4 linked regions of the Homo sapiens genome follow. The protein of the gene in region 1 purifies or fractionates together with the protein of each later gene. This does not show direct contact. Each region holds a gene or a part of one and is shown on either strand. Other genes may lie near its edges. The genes, in order: RELL1, TRDN, VSIG4 and CHIA.

Region 1 (6,664 bases):
GTGAGAACAACGTTAACTCCTTTATGAGCGTGGAGTCCCCAAGACCCAAGCACTTCTTAAAGGTCCCACTACAGCTCAACACTGTTACATTGGGGACCAAATTTCAACGTGTGTTTTGGAGGGGACAGATCATATTCAAACTATAGCAGGTTGTTTGTTTCTTTCCTTCTCTCTGTTTTTAAAAATTATGGTAAAAACACTTAACATGAGGTCTACTCTCTGAACAAATTTTTAAGTGCACAATACAGTATTGTGAGATCTCTAGAACTTATTAATCTCGTGTAACTGAAAATTTATATTTTGTGCCTGTTGATCATCAACTATCCCTATTCCCCTGCCCTCCCAGCCCCTGGCAAACACCATTCTACTCTCTGGTTTCTATGAGTTTGACTATTTTAGATACCATATATAAACAGAATTGTATAGTATTTGTCCTTTGGTGTCTGGCTTATTTCATTTAGCCTAATGTCCTCAGGGTTTACCCATGTTGTCACATTTGGCAGGATTTTCTTCTTTATAAAGCTGAATAATATTCCATTTTCATATGCCACGATTTCTTTATCCCTTTGTCTATCGATGGGAATTTTGGTGGCTTCCACATCTTGGCTGTTGTAACTAATGCTGCAGACAACATGGGAGTGCAGGTATCTCCTCAAGATCCTGATTTCAATTCTTTTTTTGGATATGTACCCAGAAGTGGGATTTCTAGATCACATGGTAGTTCTATTTTTAACCTTTCGAGAAGGCTTAATACTATCCAGCATAGCAGCGGCACCATTTTGCAGTTCCTTCGTATTTTAGTTGTGCTCTCTTACAGCATCTGACCCAGCTGACCACTTACCTCTTCTGGAAACTCATTCCTTTCTGTCCTAGACTGGAGCTCTGGCTGTTCTTCCTCAGCTTCTGAGTGGAGCAGATCCAGTTGCTCAATGCCTATTTCCATCTGGATGTCACCTGCTTACCTCTATTTCTGCGTGTTCAAAACTGAACTGTGACATTGTCCTCAAGATGCCAAGTGAATTCGTTTGCTAGAGCTGCCTCACAAAGTACCACAGACAGGGTGGTTTCAGCAACAGAGAAGTCCAAGAGGAATGTGTCAGCAAAGTTTCCTCCTTCTGAGGGCTATGAGAGAATCTGTTTCATGCCTCTCTCCTGGGTTCTGGTGATTTGCTGGCAATCTTTGGTGTCCCTTAGCTTGTAGAAGAAGCATCATCCAGATCTCTGCCTTTTTCTTCACATTTCCCCTTTTCAGAAGGACACCAATCATATGGGACTGGGGTCCACCCTGATGACTTCATTTTAACTAGATGACCTATGTAAAGATCCTATCTCCAAATACATTCTGAGGTATTGGGGGTTAGGAGCTCAACATATAAATTTAGGAGGGGGTGACAAAATTCAAACCATAACACCAAGCAAACTTGCTTTTTATATATATATATATATATTTCCCATCACAATGAATGGGTCCAATGTCCACTATGTTGCTCAAGCAGAAACTTGGACGTCATTTTTATTACATCACTTGCCCTTACATTAATTTGGGTTCAAGAAGTCACAGAACCGGGAGGCAAAATTTTGAAATAGGAATCCTAGCATCCATCAGACCTCACAAAGGGGTTTGTGACTCTCAAATGACTAACAGCCTCTGCTCTACATACTTTTTAAAGTGTCTACCATCTTGGTACAAAAGTACCACATACTAATTTTAGAAAGTTATAGAAAAGTATAAAGATAAAATTAAATTTATTTCATTATTTTAGTACCGAGAATCACTTAGCATTTTGGTTTTGGCTTTATACCTTCATGCGTTTTTATTTTTTAAAAAAACTAGTTGGATCATATTGCATGTAAGGTTTTGAATCCAGCTTTTGAAATTCAATATTGGATCATAGTGTTTTCCTGTATCTTCACAAAAAATTTCATAGATCTTTAAATAGTGCATATTATTTCATCAAATGAAACCATGATTTAGATATGTTTTTACTATCTCATTGCAAATATGCAGGTGTTGCTATTTTTTGACTTTTATAAATAATGCAACAACCTTTGCTATTTGGACTAAGTAACTTGTTCGTGATTCAGACATGATTCAGCTAGGGGTGAAGGAGAAGAAGGGATACAGTGTTTCTCAGCAAATTATTAGTGTAAATTGAAGGAAAGCTAAACCTACTGAAGTTTATAAATGTTTTAGACATTATGTATGAACAGTTACTTTGTTATTTAAAAGCTATTTTTCATTGAATTGTTAAGGTAGATCACAATATATTCTCCACTCTGCATCTTTCTTGTTAGCTATTCTTTATAATGCACAACAGGGCTGTCCAAAAAAACTTTCTGGGATGGTGGAAATGTTCATTATCTGGGCCGTCCAGTATGGTAGCAGTTAGCCACACATGGCCACTGGGCACTTGAGATGTGGCTAATGCAACTGAGGAACTGAATTTTTAATTTTATTTAAATTCATTTGGCTTAAATTTGAATTTAAATAGCTACATGTGGCTAGTGGCTATCTTACTGAATAATGCAGGTCTTTTATGATTATGACTAAAATACAGTGCCCACCTTTTTGTAGACACTCTTCTGAATGCTTTACATATTAATATTGTTTAATCTTCACAGTGACACCATGCAGCAGGCTTCCAGTTACTATTGCTGTATGACAAATAACCCCAAAGCTTAGTGGGTGAAAACAACAATCATTTCTTTTGTTTAAGGATTTGTTATACAATTTGGGCAGGGTTCATCAGAGACAGCTCTGATGCCCCATGGAGCATCAGTTGGGACTATAGGATCTACTTTTATTATGGCTATTACTGGCTGATAAGTTGATGCCTGCTATTTTCTCTCCACAGGGAAGCTTAGGCTTCCTCACAGCATGGTGGCTGGGTTCCAAGAGCAAGTGCCCCAAGAAACAGGAAGTGGAAGTTGTCAGTTTCTTATTGCCTGAGGCTGGAAAGTGATAATGCATCATTCCCAACACATTCTGTGGGTCAGGGAGAGTAGAGTGTAAATGTAAGGGGACGAGATACAGACCTCACCTCTCAGTAGAAGCAGTATCAAATAATTTTGAAGCTGGAAACCAAAAAGTATCTGAGACGGGTCTCAGTCAATTTAGAAGTTTATTTTGCAAAGGTTAAGGACATGTCCAGAGAAAAGGATCTCAAATCCACAGGAACAATCTGTGGTTCATGCCATTTTCCTAAGAAGATTTTGAGGGTTTCAATACTCAATACTTGTATTGAGTATTCAATACTTGTATTGAATATTGAGGTTTCAATACTTGTATTGAATATTGAGGTTTCAATACTTGTATTGAATATTGAGGTTTCAATACTTGTATTGAGGTTTCAATACTTGTATTGAGGTTTCAATACAAGGGGAAAGAGGGAGCAGATGTTCACATTACTGAATCTACCTGTTGCAAGGGAAAAGGAGCGGGCAGGGTAATAGTCAATTATGTCAGTCAGTCAGCACTTTACCTAAGATAAGGTGAGCATGGAGTAGCTACCTGTGCAGATACTTCACCTTTTATCAGTAGCTATCTGCCTAAGAACAAAAGGAAACGCAATTTCTTGAATGACTCAGCTTTCAGTTTAATTTTTTCCTTTTGGCATAGTAAATTGGGGTCTGAGATTAGATTTTTATTTCCCAGGGCCATCTTGTAAAATTATCACAGATTAGTCACACTCATTTTGATCCTTTTAACAGAGAGGAAACAGAGTACAGAACAGTTAAAATTACTCGCCTAAGGTGACATGTCTAGTATGTGGCCAATAACATGTCTGTTATTTCTGCCAGGTCTGAGCTTTTAATCTGAGTGCTATATTGCCTCTCCCTGTAATTTATATGCTTCACTAATGTAGATTAATATCTTCAGTTTTTTCATGGCACGATAATTATGAAATTAAGTGAATGACACATGTTTGTAAGTCACAGAGCTCTGTAGATATTTAGTGTTTGTTAGGGGTTGCCACATGTCAAATTCACGATGAAGACACCTTCTCAATCACCTGATTCAGAGGGAGGTGTTTGACTCCAATTCTGAGCCCCTCTTTCATCCCTCTTTCCCATTGTCCCCCTAAAAAAGAATTTATTTTCACCCCCAGATTGAAACAGACAGTGATTCTGAGTAAAGCTCCTTGATCTCAGCATGCTGCCTACTTCACCTATTCTTGTTGCGTGGAATATGTGTTATATAAAGGAATTAATAAAGAAAACATTGTTTTAGGACCATAAAAGGGATTAAATAAATGTTTCTGGTTTTTCCTGAAAATAAGGCATGAGGTTAAACCCTAACTTAGACGGTATATTGCATATATTTAGGGATGTATTTATTATATTGATTCTTCAGGGAGAAATCAGAAAACACTGGCTATTTCAAATTCTGGAGGTTGTCTGATAAAGTAATGAATGCAACCTCTTACAAACCTAAGAAACCAATTATTTCCTTTCATGTTCAAAGACAATGGATATTTCCATGCGAAAGAGAGGTAGTCTTTGTTCTATGGCCTCTGGTTTGCAAATAAAGCTTCTGTTTGATATTGTTTGTTTGCTGCTGTGATGAACCGTGCTCATTTCATACCAGGCATATTGTCCCCATTATAATCATTATGATGCAGGAGTTTTCTTCTCGGTCACTTTGTAAACTGGGGACCTCCTGGCTGGCGACGCTCTGCCCCAGCCTCGACGCCCTGCTTGGCCACGCTGGCGTGCTTCAGCTCCCCTGTGGTATAGCTTGTACCCACTTTCAGCAGTTCCCAAGCTCTTGTAGCGCACCCAAGAAGAATGAGGATACACGACACACTGAAGGGTGAGGAGGGCGGAGAAGAATTTTATTGAGCTATGAAAATGGCTTTCAGCAGAGAGGCAATGTGGGGCTCGGGGGAATGGTTCTACTTGAAGTTCCTCCTGTGTGGCTGGGTCTGGGGCCTTTTATGGACTCAGAATGGGGAGTGAGTGCTGATTGGTTTGTGAGGAAAGCGCACCAAACAGGAAGACAAGTCCTCCATCTGGTCCGAGGATTTAACTTGTAGCTTGGCTTTCAAGCTTTAAAATTCTTCAGCATGGAGGTGGGGTTTCACCAGGGACCCAACCCTGTCTGCCTGGGCATTTGACTGCCTCCTGCCACTCTCAATTACAATACGGATTCTTTTCTCACCAAAATTCTCTTGAGAAAGCTTATATTTAAATGTCTCTAGCTTTCCAATTTCTGGGTTTCTTGAGCAGTGTGTGTGAACCTCCCTTGATGTAGAAAACCTCACTTTATCCTTTCAGAGTCAGGATATTCCAAATACTGAAGCTTTGTTTCAGTCAAACCCCACAGTTTTCTTTGGTCCTCATCTACCTGACTCCCCTCTTCATTTTGTATTTCTCTCCTCATTTTTCCATGGCATGGTGCTCTGCTGATTCTTTTGCTACACGGTATGTTCTTCCTGAACTCCTGGCCTCAAGTGATCCGCCTGCCTTGGCCTCCCAAAGTGTTGGGATTATAGGCATGTGCCACTGTGCCCAGCCTAAATATTAATAGTGGTAGCTAACACATTTATAGTGCTTACTGTGTGACAGGAACATATATAAGGCTAACTTTTTAATACTTTTTAATTTAATTTAATTTTTTTTTTTTTTTTTTTGAGACAGTCTTGCTCTGTCACCCAGGCTGAAGTGCAGTGGTGCACTTCTTGGCTCACTGCAACCTCTGCCTCGCAGGCTCAAGCAATCCTCTCACCTCTGCCTCTCCAGTAGCTGGCACCACAGTTGTGTACCACAATGCCCAGCTAATTTTTGTATTTTTAGTGGAGACGGGGTTTCACCATGTTGCCCAGGCTGGTCTTGAACTCCTGACCTCAAGTGATTCGCCCCCTCCCCCCACCCCCTTCAGCCTCCCAAAGTATGTTCTTCCTGCGATCTCAGTTGGCCACATTGTATAATTGTGTGCTCCAGGCTCACTGCTTTCTGGAGTCCCTGTGGCACCCCTGCAGGCTAAGATATCAAACTGTCTCTCATATATATATTCATGTGATACTTTGACATGTCTAAAGGCAAAAACTTCCCTTTTCTCCAAAAGATGCCCACTTCAAAGCTTCCCTATTCTTGAAGTCATAAAGTAGATCCCCACTGTTCTTTTCTCTTCTAGTGCCCCGTGTTTTCCTTCCACAGCATTTCTCACAATCTGTCACGATCTGCCCGTGTATACTTGTTTAATGGCTGTTTCTGATGCCATCATATACGAGCCTCAAGATGGCAGGGGCTACGTTACGTTGTTCATCACTCTATCCAGTTCCCACCCAGTGTGGTGCTTGTCACATAACTGGCATGCATTCAATGTTTATTGGGATTAGTGAACAAATAAACAAGTGCACTCACTTCCATTTTTATGTTTGCACCCCAGGCCAAGATCTTGATGCTATCCCTGACTTTTCCCTCTTCTTCATACTCTAGATCTGCTAGTTTACTAAATCCTCCTAGAATGTAAGCTGCATGAGGACAACAAATCTCCGCCTGTTTTGCTCAGTGTGATGAACCTGCATCACAAGTGCCTAGAATGGTGCCTGGCATGTGGGTGAATATTTGCTATGTTGCTTGCTAGTTTACACGTAATAATTTATTTCATCTTTATAACAATCCTAGAAGGGTGAGTAGGTAGTATTTGTATGCCCATTTC
Region 2 (6,664 bases), on another chromosome or scaffold:
ATCTGTGGCATGCAATAAAGCAAAGTGCAATAAAAAGAGACATGGCTGCAATTCAAATTGGAATCAAATGTTTTATAATCTGTCCAGTCTTTATTCTCACTGTTATTTTTTGCTCTTTTCTTTTTGTTTTGCAATGTAGCAGGGACCTTTTATCATTCATTTTTGTGTCCACATTGTCAGGCATTCAATTTGGTACGTAATAGGTATTAAAATATTGAATAAAACCAAACCTCTGGCATGACATACTGCTTCATAAATCTACATCTAGGATGATAATTAATACCATAGAATCTAAAATTTTGTTATATTTCAGATGGAGGTAACTTGCCTTTTTCTAAATGCAATGCCTAATATTTCTGCAGATTTAAATTCACAAACTTGGCATTTTACTATACTGTAGTAACTTTCAGATTTTACAGTACGCTTTTTCCCCTAGTCAATAATATATAGGTTAAATCAGAATAACCATGGGCAAAAATAATAGCTCCAGCAGTGAATGTCAGAGAAGTGCCACTTCATATCTCTTATTTTTGTCTTGACATTATATTAAATGTCTTCCTCAAACAGAAAATTCCCCTAATCACATGATAATTTTATTTTCAAAGGCAACAGACAATTTTCCAAGGAAAGTTTGCTAAATATGTATTTTGAACGTCTGTATAAATGGAAACTGAATCTCTCACATCCACGAGCTCACTAATGCCCTAGACCATATTAAAACTAAGTTTGAAATACTAAGAGTTTTTCCTTCTTTTGTTTTTCTCAACACTTCAGTAACCTGTGTCAGGGAGGGGAGAATGATGCAGCAAATGCGTAGCAAAGATAAAACTGGTTTGTCACAATGAGTTCCAGCTTCATGCTGTCTAAATGAAACCAAGTTTCCCCTATAAAGAACAGGTTGCTCCATTTAAATTATCTTTGTTCTTATAGGTCAAAATATCATGTCTTTAACTTGTTTGGGTGAAAACCACATGCCCTAGCTTCTGGCACAGATAACAAATTAGAAAATATCTAAACCACATATATTTAAATGTAATATTTAAAGTACATTGTAAGTGAGATAGAGTCTGCAGTTTATGAGGAAACAGCTCATTTACATACCAAAGAATCTCTCACAATTGTAAATTCTGTGTGTCTTTGACAGCTTCACTTCAGGCATGGAGATGTGGAGATGTTTGATGTTTAGAGAGCATTAACTTGTATAGAGCAGAGCAAGACTTTATTCATTGCACATTTGCCAAGGATACTCTTTTTGGTTTCCTTTGAAGATAAAAATTACTATCTGTTTGGACCAGGAAGTTCATCTGTCTCTGCATAACCCTCACTAGGGGTAATATATATTTACATGACAATCAAATAAGTATTCTCTGTAAAAAACCAAGCCTGTCATTCGTATTATCCAGGGCAGGTGGGAACTGGAGACAGCAAAAACTTAACCTTGACAAATCTTCCTAGAACTTTAAGTAAAATGGAGCCTGAACTCCGTAAAGTCGACATTATTGTATGATGTTAATGCATAGTTGCCAGATGAAGATTTTTCCCCTGCTTTGTTCTTTTTAAATATGTTACATTAGATAATATGTATTTTTTAAAAATACATTAAACATGTCCCCAACGGGTTTCTTTTTGTTTGAAAGAAGAAAAGAATAATGTTTTAATACTATCTTTAAGCTCCAACTAAGCATAACTATAAAACCAAAAGCTTTACTGGAAAATCTTAACCATTTTCTTTTCAAATTGATATATTCAACACAAAGGTCAATGTAGATGATTTTAAAATTGCTTAGTTGCACTGTTTTATGTTTCTCTCATATTAAATATTGTTAACTGATTAAAAATTAATGCCAACAGTATTGGAGGCCTTAAGTCTCTATGGATTCCTAAGCCTTTAGTATAATAACTGAATAGCCTCAATTCATTTTTGCATTGTAAAAGTAGCATGAATTTTAAATTACAGTCATAATGATAACCAAAAATAAATAGGAAAAAAAATAAGAAACATTTAAGCTCATAAACGGAACATTTTCATGGATACTATGTGCTTATGGGGTGGGGAGAAAAATAGTTCCTATTACAAATAATAATAAAAACTACAAGAAAAAGCTTCTTAACGGAACCTAACAAGGGCTGACACTACACAGCTATATTTTCTGCTCATTGTCACTGCAAATTTTGTATCATGGATGATTTGAACAATTTAAAAAACATAAACTTAATTTGCCAAATAGCATGATCTTGTAAAATTTTTAAAAATTCCTCTGGCCATATTATTTTTAATTAACCAAGTTCATGACCCTTCTTTTGAGGCCCCATCCTCCCCAGACCAAGAGTGGTTGAGTAGTGGAGATAGTGCCTGAACCCCAATTTCTGACTTAAGTAAAACTCCATGCACTTACTACTCTATCACACTCTCTTTTCTTAATGCTTCTTTCTCCCAGCTCTGCACTATATTTTCTCTCTGATTTTCAGTGAACTATACTCTCCTGGTTTTCACAATCTGCTTTTTTTTTTTTTTCTATTTTCCTAAAGTGAACTTGAGCAGTAAAGAATAACAAGAAGTTTCAGAGTCAGACTAATCAGGTTTATGTGATACCTGCCTTTCACAGTTTTTGTGATATTTCAAAGAGATAGTCATACAAAAGCTTCATACTTAATACCCTGTCAATAAATGCAATGTTCCAAGCCATAGCACTTTTTAGAACTATTTTTTCTTGCATCATGTTGACTTCTTAGGCTTTCAAATTGTTCTCAGGTTTTCCCATGACCTATCTCAAAAACAAACTATTTCTAATTAATGTCTCTAATTAATGTTACCAATAATATGAAACTAACCTCCAGATTCCCATATTATAATAGATATTAAAAATGATTACTTCCTTGTCTGCTTTTACAAACATAAGTATATTTCCAGACTACTCTGCTTAATATGAGCATATTTGGTTTTCATTTCAGTAACAACAGACACTGTTCAATTTAGAGAGTAATTTGCACTTACGAATAAATTTGGTGACCAGAGAATTCACTGACCCATATATGTTATGAAAATTAAATTCTTATTAAAAGATTTACTCTACTAACAACATCAACTCTGTTTTTTTTCTTAACTCTTTATTGTGAAGAAGCTTAAATAATCCCAAAAGTAGACAATATTATAATGAAACTTAATGTACCCATTATCAGCCTCAACATAATCAACTAATGGCCAATCCTACCCCACCCACACCCCAACTACTTTCTTCTTGGGCATATTATTTAGAAGCAAATTTCAAATATCACATCACCTCCTTCATAAATATTTGAATGTGTATCTCCAAATAATAAGTAATTTTAAAAGACAACCACAATACGGTTATCCCACTAAAAATATAATTATTCATTAAGGTTATCTAACATCCAGAGTATATTAAATTTTCACTTGTTTCATCAGAATTTTTTAAGGTTGTTTGTTTGAATCATGATCCAACCATTCCATACATTGTGATGGGTTGCTAACTTTTTACATTTCTTTTCATCTGTTCTCCAGATTTTCTTGTTCTTGTTCCCAGGAACTTATTTGAAGTAACTGGGTTGTTTGTACTGTAGAGGTTCCCAGAGCCTACTGCCTACTATGGTGTAGATTTTGGCATATTCCTCATCCCTCTATTTCTTAAAAATTGGAGGCTGTGTATTTCCTTTTCCTTCCCTCCTTTCTTGCTTTCTCTTTTCTTTCTTTCTAGTCAGAAGAGTCAGTTCTAGCTATCATTTTAATGGTTGGTTGGGTTTTGCCTTGTATTTTGCCAATAGTGTGCCTTTTTTGTGACTTCCAGACTTTTATCCATGGGTCTGTGCATTGCCCTCAAGTGCTACATAATGAAAAAATCCAGTCTTCTACTTAAACAAACCATGCACAAATCTTTTCATTTAACTGTGCCTTTCACCATCGTGGTACTCCTCTTTTGAATAGGCTAGCTTTCTAATGTCAGTTTTAAAATGTACTTATAAGACTAAAAATAATATATGTGGTATGTTGCTTTATCAGGAAAATCAAGAACATCTCCTGGAAGTGACCAGGGCTTGAAACTAGTGCTACATCCCTTTGTACCCCCAGCTCATCCCCGCTTAAGCCAGGGCAGCTGCCCTTTGCTTTGATGAGGTAAATGCAGAAACATAGGTTGGATCGCCTCATAATTTCACCATCTGTCATGCTAGATGATATAACTTGTTTGCCTAGTTGTTAAGTAGTCTGGCTGTGAATTCTTGATTTTTTTTTTTTCTTGAGAGCAATAGTGAGTAATCTTGTGCTGCAGACTCTATGGGAGTAATGCAGTGTGTAGAATATAAATGACCATTTTTGCTCTAAATTTTGAATATCAAATCTTCTCATAGGTTTGATTGTTACAGAAGCAGTGAAACGTGATTCGGCTAATGGTAAGGAAAGAATTCCACACATAGTGCAATAATTCTTCTCCTGAAGCCTGAGGTTATGTAATAGTTTATAAGTTGAGAGTTGGATATAAGCTCTTCTAACATTTTAAATAAAAAGCTTTCTTGAACTAAGCGTTCTAGTAAATACTAAGTTAATTATATATGGGATTCCCAGCAACTTGGATACATTACATTGCAAGGAAGATAAAGGACTGTTTATAGCCCTAAACCTGTGTGCTGTTTGAGTGTAATCCAGTCTGGGCCTGATTCAACCTACCTAAATGTAACATGGTCCTAGTGTAGGCTCCAATAACAACCTAATTGACCAACCTAACAGTCTCACACAGTAAGAAGACATATCCAATATGACTCTGTGGTCAGGCATGGGTATGAATCCTAGCTATATCACATACAGTTGTGTGAATTCTAGCACATTCTTTAAACTCTCTCAACTTCAGCTTCCTATTCTCTAAACAGCAATAATATTAGCCTTTATTCTCATTTGGTGGCCCTGAAGATTAAATGAATATTTATCAAGCTTAATACAGTGCTTGACATCTTATGTCTTCAGAATAAATATGTTATCATTGCTGTTATAATTATCTTTATTAATTTATTTTGCCAGAATCAAAGGTGTTATTACCCTAAAATCCTTTGGAGTTCAACTTTGTCCTATTTCTAATTTATCTATTACTCTGTACCTGAAACACAATTCTGTATTTAGCATTATTTCCTTTCTTCCACTGGATGAAGTAAGCCAGCTTGGAACCTGCAGTGGAAATTGATGTGAGCAACTAGGTGAGGTTATAGGCACGACATGCACTGTAGTTGAATAAGCACTGGGATGAGCCATGGGAGGCATGAAATTTATCCTCAGATCTCTCCTAATTTCCCATGACCATGAGACAGTCATATAATCTGTATGAGCCTTGTCTTCCCAAAACTTGAGATGAGAACAGTTAACTAGAGCTTTCTAAGGTAATGAGTTATCTCTTATATTCTTAAGTGCCACAAACTGTTTTGTGTGTGTGCGTGATAAATGGATGGAAAAGGTAATTGATTGATAGGTGGCATAGGTCTACTGATAGAGTGCTTACATTTCAGTAATGTGTCCAAAAGTGATTGCAAGCCCCAGGCGTGATGGTTCTTGCCTGTATTCCCAATGTTTTGGGAGGCAGAGGCAAGAGAATCTTGGCTTGAGGCCAGTAGTTAAGTACAGCCTGGTCAACATAAGGAGGTCGTGTCTTTACAAAAATAATAATAAAAAAAAAATTAGCCAGGCATGGTGGTGCACACCTGTAGTCCTAACTACTTCTGATGCTGAGGTAGAAAGATTGCTGGAACCCAGGAGTTTGAGACTGCAGTGAGCTATGATCATGCCACTGCATTCCAATATGGGTGACAGAGAAAAATTCTGCTCTAAAAAAAATAAAATAAATAAATAAATGGTTGAAAAAAATATAGCAGATGAGATAAAATAAGACTATTTCAGGCTCAGAAAATAGCCTGTACCAAGGCACTGTACAAAGGTATACCTTTTATAAAAGACTGGAGGAAGACAATTGTAGCTAGGGCACAAAAGGTGAGAATTGCAAAGATAACATGAAACTGTGTAGTAACAAAGTGTGAAAAAACTTTGGATATCATCAAAGAATGACTGTGCTTCCTTAAAAGATGAGTTCATTTGAGTTGGCAGTCTAATTTTCATTTGAGAAATATTATTAATAAATCATTCCAGAAAACAAAAAAAAATGCATAATTGATGTTCAGATAACATAGATCCTATGAACTGTTAAGGCCCGGAAGTGGAAAATGACCATCACCCAAGAATTAGATGGTATTTCTACTTTTTAATTTTATTACTAATGTAATTATTTTTATGGGTAACTCCAGAAGGTCTTCCAAGGCCCTTTTAAACCCCCGCAGAGCAAAGGCAGAAACAAAAGCTCTATTTCATAATCAAGAATTTTCCTGTAAAAAGTCTTTTGAATCAAATGCAAGTTCTACAAAACATAATCCACAAGCAAGCCCAAGATGGTTTAGTCAACTGACCTCCTGAATCACCTGGGAGCCCAAACCCTGAACAGAGGTAGAGAAACAGAAGATTAAGACGCTCGTAGCTATCTTAATAACTTGTGCAGAGCTAAACAAGAAGTTTTTATACATAGCTTTCTTTAAGGCAAACTAAAAGCAACATGACACAGAATATCTAAGGAATAGGAAAAATGCTATTTATATTTAGTTAGCAAATTCTGAACTA
Region 3 (6,664 bases), on another chromosome or scaffold:
AAATAGAATTAGGAAAATAGAGCAAACCAAAATCTGCCCCTCTTGTATTCCCATTCGTAGGTCTGAGTTCTGCTCTCTGCCAAATTCGAAGCATTCCAGAGAGTATGTAGTGGATCTAGCAACATGGACTTATGTTATTTATTCTTTTCTACTCAAGGGCTTTTTCTTGACTAAAATATGCTATTGATGTTCTAAGGGTCCCTGGTGAGGGCACAGGCTAGAGGCTTGATTTTATATCTCTATTAACAGAAGTCCTGATGCTGGACAGTATATTCTGGGAGTTAGAACGCATACACTCAACCCATCCAAAAGATGTCATCTTCCATCCGCTTGACTGAATACTGGGATTTCTAGGCTCAATAAAAGACTTTTATTCAGGAATACCTCATATCTTTGAAACCACCTCTCTTAGGAGAGACATGAATATATTGCCTAAATATACCCACCCCACACTCCTGGCCCCAGCTAAATAAAACAAAAAATCTTCTAAATAAGAGCTTATGGATGGAAAATTCTGATGGGAGGCAATGGCTGTTTCAACATCCCCACCTCCTTCCCCACCCCCACCCCCATCCCCAAGGGTTTCCTTCTCAAACACGCCAAGGAGCAATCTCCCATTGCTTCTATCACCACCCCTACTACAGCCAGCTTCAGGATTTCACTCAGAACCTTTTCCTCTCTAGACCAAAAATGGATGCAATCTTTTCCCCCTCAAGATGAAATTTTCCTATGTATCCTTGCTAAGAACTAAGAGAAACCAAAAGGAAAATAAACAAAAGAAATCAGAAAAAAAGTCAGGTTTACAAAGTGCAGGTTTTGAATTTAACAATAGCTAATGATTTTGTTAAACAGGAATGTGTATCCAGACTTCTTCCTCACACTTGGTTCCACCCTCAGTATTTCCTTTTGCCTGTCTTCCAGAGAACATCTTAGGGTTGGGACCCCACTCACTGAGGATTTCTAAGGGAACAAGAGAAGATAACAGGGCAGAGGGCCCTTTCTTGCTGATCTCAAAAGCCTCCACCTTTCTCCAGGTGCAAATTTACACAAAATGAAATAGTCCAGACCCAAATGCTTAGCATTTTTGCTTCCACATCTCTTTTGGAAAATGTGAAAAGAAAATTTTTTCATGGATTTGCAGAATGACAGATTTGATAGAATATCTAGAGCACCTACCACCCAAACTCTCCACATTATAGATGAAGTAAATGAATCTTCCACGGTAAGAAGGTGACTTACCTAGGATCACCTTCATAGCAAGACAGTAACATAAAAAGGACTTGAAACTCACAAGATCTAAACAATGTTAAAGGCTTTCATTCTGAAGACTGGTTCTGATTGATGAGAAGGCTGGCAAAGAGCAAAAGGGCACAGGTACACAAAAGTGTGATAGAAAGAAAGTTGAGTGGCATTTCTCAGAAACCTTTTGAGGTTTGTCACTGTCACCTTAGTTGCCAAGTAGGTATGCCATCTACGTTTGCTTCTTTCCTCTGTTCCGCCTCTTCAGGCCGTCCCATCCTGGAAGTGCCAGAGAGTGTAACAGGACCTTGGAAAGGGGATGTGAATCTTCCCTGCACCTATGACCCCCTGCAAGGCTACACCCAAGTCTTGGTGAAGTGGCTGGTACAACGTGGCTCAGACCCTGTCACCATCTTTCTACGTGACTCTTCTGGAGACCATATCCAGCAGGCAAAGTACCAGGGCCGCCTGCATGTGAGCCACAAGGTTCCAGGAGATGTATCCCTCCAATTGAGCACCCTGGAGATGGATGACCGGAGCCACTACACGTGTGAAGTCACCTGGCAGACTCCTGATGGCAACCAAGTCGTGAGAGATAAGATTACTGAGCTCCGTGTCCAGAAACGTGAGTCACTATGGGGGTAGGAAAGCACTGATAATCAATGAATCAATAGTGGATGTAATTCTAGAAAAGCCTGAAAAATCCAGAGGCCTTCGTTTATACAGAGGCTCTCCACAGGTATATGTGCTTATCAGAGGAAGTGGACAGGCAGAGGATTCTTAGGGTCAGCATTCCCATAGTTAAATTTAGGAAGTGCTGGGAAGGGTTCCTGACCTGCAAATCTCTATCCCTTCGAGTGTCCCAGAAATGCCAGTATCCATGGACTAGTTACCCTCCTTGGGCTCTGGGCTTTACAACTCAAAAATGAGTACATTTAATTTGTAGATAGATGCTGATAGAGAAGCTCTGGGGAAAGGGAGGCAGAGGTTAGCCAGGATAAGTTTGCTTGCTGGACAATTTTACAAAAGTCTGGCCCTGATAATCCACAACTGCAGGTAATCAAAAGCTCTACTTGAGCCCCAGAACAAACTACATTAATTTTAAAGGTCAGTTGATTTTTACTTCCAAGTATTCCAAAACCCCGGGTAATACCAAAAAGTACCTACCTTCAAAGGAAGCCATTTTATTTGTATTGCCCTTTCCTTCTTATTTCCTCCAAAGTCAGAAGCCCCCTTTAGTTCCAGTTGCAGATATATGCATGCCCTTACGCCCAACAAGAATGATTCAGCCTTTTGGTCCCATATCCTTATGACTGCCCAGAGTTTCCTGTCTTGTCTTTTCTTTGCAGTCTCTGTCTCCAAGCCCACAGTGACAACTGGCAGCGGTTATGGCTTCACGGTGCCCCAGGGAATGAGGATTAGCCTTCAATGCCAGGCTCGGGGTTCTCCTCCCATCAGTTATATTTGGTATAAGCAACAGACTAATAACCAGGAACCCATCAAAGTAGCAACCCTAAGTACCTTACTCTTCAAGCCTGCGGTGATAGCCGACTCAGGCTCCTATTTCTGCACTGCCAAGGGCCAGGTTGGCTCTGAGCAGCACAGCGACATTGTGAAGTTTGTGGTCAAAGGTGAGCGGCCCTCTTTCCTGGTGAGCATCTTAACACACAAGCTTGAAACAAAGATACCTCAAAAGGTGCCCTTATGCAAAAGAAGAATTGGGAGAGGAGGATCCCAAGCAGGCAATGGTTGTACAATCACAAAGAAAAAAAACTTGGACTGGGGACAACAGGGATAGAGACATTGCCTATCATGCCATAGGTTAAGTAGATAAAGACGGTAAAGGAAAGAGAGATTTACTAGCACATTGTATTTGCCAGATACAAAGTACAATAACTTGACACACATTTTCTCATTGAATCCCCACAACTGTCCCATGAGATAGTTATCATTACTCTTACTTTACAGAAGAGGAAACAGAGTCAGAAAGGGGAATCTACTTGCCCATGGTCTCACAGCAAGGAAGTATAAATCTGGATTTGTACTCAGATTTCATGCTCTTCCTACTATGTCTGATTGTTTCTCATGGTTGAATCTATATCAGATCCTGGGCACCCTTTGAAAGCTGTTGTTTTTTGTTTGTGTGTTCTGTTTGTTTGGTTATTGTTTTGCTTGTTTGATTAGGCTTGATCTAATATATCTACATGCTTTCTTTTAACTTCCCTCCCCCACTTCATTGTAAACCCAAATACAAGTTCTGGTTGAAGTATCCTTTAAGATGGGCTCTTGTTAATCAAGATCTGACTATTTCTTACAGCACTGTCCTGGGAGCACTACAAACTATGCATATAAAGACTGTAAGCTGAGGCTTAAATGAAGAGTCCAGCAGTGATATGTCCAGATGAGTTTTCTTAGCTTTCAAGAGATCTCCTTGGAAAGAAAGACACCCCAACAAGGTTACCATTGCCCAAAACATGTTGGAAACTAACTGATTTTAGGGAATTGCCCTCAGAACCATCTGAAAATTATTGTCTTCTGAGGATAGTTCTGTGTAAGGAGAGGGCGTAAACCTAGCCCAAATGGCTTATTACCATTTGGGCTAGGAGACTGATGTTGGTTTGAGACTCTTGTGTTTGCCTGGAGGAATTTGTTTCCCAAAGTTAAGCTGTAGTGAGGATGTGTGTGCTGTAGATCATGGTTTGTTAGTTTTGGGAGGAACAAGAGTGGTCCGCCCTGAAAGTTATATGAACAGTGTCCCAGTTCTCTAAGAGCTGACAGTCTGGTCAAGCAGAGAGGGCAGGGCGTGACCAGAAAGCCCAAGAATGTATACTTCATAAAGAGACTAATTGAACATTCTTGCCTTTCTGTGAGTTACTTCTCAGACCACCTAGGCAAGAACTTGCTCACAGTAAACCCTCCTGTTTATTCCTTCTCACAGTCAATGCTTATTACAGTGCTGTTAAGCAGTGCTCGCCATTGCCCCCTACTGACAGATAGGAAAACTGAGGCTCAGGGAAGTTATTCTCAGCCTTCCACTCTTCCCTGCTCTGTGAGCCAACGTAATCTTTCCTGGCTACCTCTACCTGCCTCCCTGTCCACCCAACCTTGTCCCCTGAGTCTGACCCCCTATTTCACCTCTGCCCTACGGAACTCTCAGCCCTTTCACCCTTCCACCTCACTCTGCACTGTTCTTTAGTTCTAGAATGACTCTGGAGGCCCTGCTTTTGCTCATGTTCTTGGACTGCTGAGCTTTGCTGACGAACAAAACAAAACACAGATATGAATTGACTCCACTTGAATTTTATGCTCTGCGATATGTACTGCCTGACCCCATGCCGTGTGTCTATTTGCTTATCTTTGTCTCATTCCTCATAGCAGCTTTTCAGCACATTTCTACCTTATTTCAGGCCCCCAGCCTTGCTCCTAAAAGATAAGGTAACTTCCTTCCTCTGTAAGAAGGTCCAGACCCTCTTCATATGTGAATTTTATCAACTACCCTCCTCTCTGCCTTGATATTTCCCTATCCATTTCCTCTTGGCTCAGAGTAAGGTATGCTTTGCTCCTCTCCACAACAAGCCCCTCCTCCTGAACTCTTAACATCAGCTACTCCAATGCCCTGCAATACCCTTTATCCTCTACCTAAGCCAAATAGATATGCATGTATAATATATGTATATATGTCAGTATGCAAGCCTAATACATACATATATATATGTTATTTTTCAAAAATCTTTCTCTCCATCTGCCACCTCATCTCTCCTATGTTCACTACCAACCTTCTCACGAAGGTAGCTTCCACCAGCTGAACCTCTCAATTCATTCACCACAACATAACTTTGTAATTTGGGGTCATCATTAACCTCCATATCACCAAATCCCAAGACCTCTCCATTCATACTTTTCCTCCTCAACATCTGTGTAGCAGTGGATCCTGTTGGCCATTTCTTCCACCTCAATATTCTTTTAATCACTGCTATTGATGACACCAACTTATCTTGGTTCTTCTAAGACCTTCCTGAATGATCCTTCTGAGACACCTTTGTTGGCTCTTTTTTCATTCACTCCTTAATTGTAAATGTTCTCAAAGACTCAATTCTTATTCATCTCTGCATGTATTTCTATATTATCAGGAGATTTTATTTACTTCTGTGGCTTCAAATATCACCTGTAGTCTGATGACTCTCCAACCATAATATTATCTGTATTTATTTTTTCCTGACTGCTAGATCCCAGTGTCTAGTTACCTTCTGGACAGCTTCATTTCTAATTTCAGCGTGTTCAAAACTGATCGTACCTTTTACTCACCAAACCTGTTCCTCAAACCTGTTAGAAAACATAGCAGTACCTTTGACTCCTCCTTCTCTTTTACCTCGCATCGTCAAATAATCATCAATATTACCAAGTGCTGTGAATTCACCTACTGAATCAGATACCTTATTAGGCTCTTTCTTTCTCTTCCTATACCCTCATGGTCTCATATTCTTTTTTAAAAAACAATTTCAATCATCTTCTAAATGTTCTCCCCATGTTCATACATTCTTACGAAGTCATCAACTTATTCAATATTTATTGAGTATATATTTTATGTCACTAGATTATAAAATTCAAGAGTGCAGAATTCTACCTGTCTACTTCATTGCTGTTTTTCAGAGCCCAGCAAAGTATCTGGCACAAAGAAGACACTAGACACTAGATGAATACTGTATTTGTTAATGAATGGGGAAAATATGCTATTGCCTTACCTTTGAAAATCCTACCACACTGTTGTCAGAATTATTTCCAAAAAAAATAGACTGAACAATTTTTGCTTCCTTTCTCAAAAGGAAGTAAACCTTTCTCAAAAGGTGTAACCTTCTGTTACACCCCATGGATCTTTCCAACTAAAGAACAAAGCCCAAACCCTTTTAGTCTGTTTTCAGCCTACCTATCCAGACTTATCTACTAATATGTTTCGCCACATCTAAAACGGAGCATGCTGTTTCCTCTGCTAGCAAGAGGGAGAAGCTTATGGTTTTCTCATGTCTTTTCTGAGCAGGTACATGGCCCTGTGCTTGTGTGTGGCCTCCTAGTTTCCCAGAACTGTGTCAGAACTCTTCAAAATCCCTATGGAAATCTTATTCCTCAACCATTTTTAAGGCTATTTTGGTTAGTTTTTTTTGTTTTCTCGCCTATTATCCATTGCCTCAGGCAGCTGTGTGACAAATGCTACCCCATCCCTGGGGAGAGGCTCTTAGCACTGGGTGACCAATAAAACAAGTCTTTTGAGTCAGGTCTTTCAGGGAACCACCAGACAGGCCAAATAATGGCAATTATTCAAAAATGAAGTTTGTTGGGCTCACTCCAGCACCTGGAATGGGGTTGTATGTTCAAGATTACCTCTGAGGTAGAAGGGGTAAGGGGACTAGGAGAAGTTAAAACAGCACAA
Region 4 (3,500 bases), on another chromosome or scaffold:
GGTTGTTTGGGAACCTCAGTAAGTAAACCTCTGTGGATAGGGCCCCCAAATGTCCACCAAATTAAATGTATGAAATAAATTGTGTTCCACTTAATAATGAGGTTCTGGTGTAGCAATATATTTAATTCATATATTTGTTTATGTACATCCTCAATACCCTGTCTTAGATTGTGAAGTCTAAAGGGACAGTGATCACATGGGGCTAACTTGTTTTCCATAGCAAACGAACAACATGCTCTCCATAGAAGACTTACGGGGCAGTCCCGAAGTTCCAGCCTCCAATGGCCAGGAGAGTTTTCAGCTGGCTGTTCCTGTAAAACAAAGGATAGAAACAGATAAACTTCAAAAGTCAGGACTCCCTCCATTTAAAATACATTGCTTTAGTGTTGGATCTGGTCAGATATTTTTGTTTTGCCTTTTGTAGAACAATTTTCCTCCCCTACTGAAAACTTCCTTTATAAAAATTCTTTGTGTTGTTCCTGTCATGAATGCACTCAGGGTTCCCTAGGGAAATCTAAATTTTGAAACTGGGCTTTAAAAAATATTGTGTGTTGGCAGTATCTTTGATTGTGTAAGTTTAAAAAACATGAATAGCTAATATAATATTCTATTCTATCAGATAAAATGGTAAATGTTGCTTGAGCTTAATTACATTTTTAGCCTCTGTAATGTTAAAATAAATTAATTGGCTTGAAATTATACACATTCTCTTGAATAGAGATTCCCAAACATTAACATACATAATAATTAAGTGCAAGGGTTGTGGGAGGACAACATGAAAAATCTGGGTTTATCGCCCCTTCCCCTGAGATTCCAATTCGGTTGGATTGCAGTAGGGACTAACACTTACTCAGGTACCTCACATGATTTTGAGGCAAGTAGTCAATGGAGCACACTTCAAGAAACACTGCCGTAAAGGAGTTTATTTACTCTTAGTCATTGTAACTTAAATTCTAGTAGCTGTATTCACGATAATGCCATTACTGATAGTAGCAATCACCTGTAGCTTTCCTTCTCTTAAATATGACTAAACTGAACAAAGTCAACTCAGAATGGATTAAAGATCTAAATTTATGACCTCAAATTGTAAAACTACTGAAAGAAAACCTTAAAAAAAAGCTCCAAGAGCTACAGCAAGAATTTTTTGGATATGACTGGAAAGTGCAGCAACAAAAGCAAAAATAGACAAATGGGATTACATCAGGCTAAAAAGCTTTTGCATGACAAAGGAAACAGAGTGAAGAGACTACCTATGGAATGGGAGAAAATAGTTGGAAACCATATGTCAAGTAAGGAGTTAGTTAGTATCAAAAATATATAGGAAATTTATACAACTCAGTAGTAAGAAACCAAATAACCTGATTAAAAAATGGGCCAAGGACTTGAAAAGACATTTCTCAAAAGAAGACATACCAATGGTCAACAAGTGTATAAAAAATGCTCAACATCACTAATCATCAGAGAAATACATATCAAAATCAAATGAGATACCACTCAATCCGCTTAGAATGGCTGTTATCAAAAAGATGAAAGGTAAGTGTTGGAAAAGACATGGAAAAAAAAGGAACTCTTGCCCACTGTTGGTGGGAATGAACATTAGTATACCCATTATGGAAAATAGTATAGATGTTCCTCAAAAAATCAAAGAAATAACTACCATATGATCCAGCAGTTACACTACTGGGTTTACATCCAAAGGAAATGAAATCAGTGTGTTGAAGAGATATCTGAATTTCCATGTTCATTGCAGCACTATTCACAGTAGCTAAGATGTGGAATCAATCTAAGTGCCCCTCAATGGATGAATGGACAAAGAAAATGTGGTCTTTATATACAATGAATACTATTAAGTCTTAAAAAAGAGGCAGAAATCCTGTCATTTGCAGCAATATGGATAAACCTGGAGGATATTATGTTAAGTGAGATAAACCAGGCACAGAAAGACATATACCACATGATCTCACTTATAAGTGGAATCTAAAAGAAGTTGAACTCATAGAAGTATATAGTAGAATGGTCGTTAGCAGAGGCTGGGGGTGGTGTGGGGATGGGGGTTGGGGGGCATGTTGGTCAAAGGATACAAAATTTCAGTTAGAAATGAGGAATAAGTTGCAGAGGTCTATTGTACAACATGGTTACTATTGTTAGTAACAATATATTGTATTTTGAAAATTGCAAACAGTACATTTTAAGTGTTCTCACCACAAAAAACATTAAGTATTTGTGGAAATGCATATGTTGATAGTTCGATTGAGCCATTCCGCACCGTATACATATTTCAAAACATTACATTGTCCATAGTAAACACATACAATTTTTGTCAGTTATAAAAGAAAAATGAAATGCAGAGTCTTGGTCCCCATCTCAGATCCATGGATCTGAACTACATTTTAAGAAGCATTAATGTTTGGGAAGTACTGAAAAAGGGGATGCCAAATTAAATATCTCCCTCATCCTACTTATTTTTCAGGCCATTGAAAGCTTGGTAGAGAGTCACATCATTCCATTCGATGGTGGTGATCTCGTTGTTCTGCCTCCCAGCAAAGGCGTAGATCAGGTGGGTACAGAGGCAGGGGTCGATGTTGTCAGGCATGAAGCGCCCCAGGCCTGGCCGGTACTGGGCCCAGTTGGTGAAGTAGCATGTCAGCTGGTAGGCAGAGCCTGTGTGTAGTCAGCAGGAGGGACAATGGCCTGGTTTAGGATCCACTGAAGTGTGCTGTGAGTTTTGGCCTTGCCTCTGTTTCCCTCCCTGTGCCTCAGATGCCTGATCTCTGTGTGGAGGTAATTAGTATGAACACTCTTGCAAATGCATCCTAAGATTCTAACTCAGAACTGGTCACTAACTTGGAGTTGTTTATTTTTAACTTTCACAGACTCATTTTGGGATTTTGGATAAGCCTAGCTAGCAGCCTTCTAAGAAAAGATGCCCATAGTCCTATGAAGCCCAGTGAGTACCAGTTTATAATTCAGATGGTCATGCTGAAGAGGATAGCAGTGACAGCCAATCCAAAACACTAGATTACTCCCAAATCAAACCCATCTGTCTGTGAAGCAAACAGCGGCTCTCTTTCCATAGTATGGTTTATCTCGTATATATACATTCAATGATAAAACATGGAGTCCATGACTTACCGAGCTGCAAATTCAGTATAAGGACAAGACCTGGATAGAAAGAAAAAGCATGTACTTTGAACCGATTGTCTGTACCCCGTAGAATCTAATTCTGAAGGATTGATTGCCTTCCAATTTGCCATAAATTGTTACAACCTCAGTGAGATTTGGTGGTGATTCCAAAGGCTTTTCAGTGAATACAACAGTAGATCTACCTTTCCCCACCTTTATCAAAAATGACCGTGGTACCTTCGTCTCACACCTTTCTTGTCACAAATAAATGTTCCTGAATGCTGAGTCCGAAGTTTACTATCTATGGAAGATGTACTTACTGAAATCACCAACTGATCACTGTAGTCAATGATGACACATCCATTCGTTCTTCCCCT

What was found.
Region 2: the proteins of RELL1 (region 1) and TRDN purify together in Homo sapiens (co-immunoprecipitation; one large-scale study listed by IntAct). This does not show direct contact.
Region 3: the proteins of RELL1 (region 1) and VSIG4 purify together in Homo sapiens (co-immunoprecipitation; one large-scale study listed by IntAct). This does not show direct contact.
Region 4: the proteins of RELL1 (region 1) and CHIA purify together in Homo sapiens (co-immunoprecipitation; one large-scale study listed by IntAct). This does not show direct contact.

What each region holds. Positions count from the first base shown.
Region 1 is NC_000004.12:37,650,027-37,656,690, reverse strand, and holds part of RELL1 (RELT-like protein 1 precursor), read left to right. Parts: intron 1-6,664. UniProt on the Homo sapiens protein: Induces activation of MAPK14/p38 cascade, when overexpressed. Induces apoptosis, when overexpressed.
Region 2 is NC_000006.12:123,628,616-123,635,279, forward strand, and holds part of TRDN (triadin), read right to left. Parts: intron 1-6,664. UniProt on the Homo sapiens protein: Contributes to the regulation of lumenal Ca2+ release via the sarcoplasmic reticulum calcium release channels RYR1 and RYR2, a key step in triggering skeletal and heart muscle contraction.
Region 3 is NC_000023.11:66,028,674-66,035,337, reverse strand, and holds part of VSIG4 (V-set and immunoglobulin domain-containing protein 4 isoform 1 precursor), read left to right. Parts: intron 1-1,507; coding exon 1,508-1,864; intron 1,865-2,588; coding exon 2,589-2,870; intron 2,871-6,664. UniProt on the Homo sapiens protein: Phagocytic receptor, strong negative regulator of T-cell proliferation and IL2 production. Potent inhibitor of the alternative complement pathway convertases.
Region 4 is NC_000001.11:111,311,351-111,314,850, reverse strand, and holds part of CHIA (acidic mammalian chitinase isoform c precursor), read right to left. Parts: intron 3,163-3,500; coding exon 3,133-3,162; intron 2,662-3,132; coding exon 2,460-2,661; intron 312-2,459; coding exon 255-311; intron 1-254.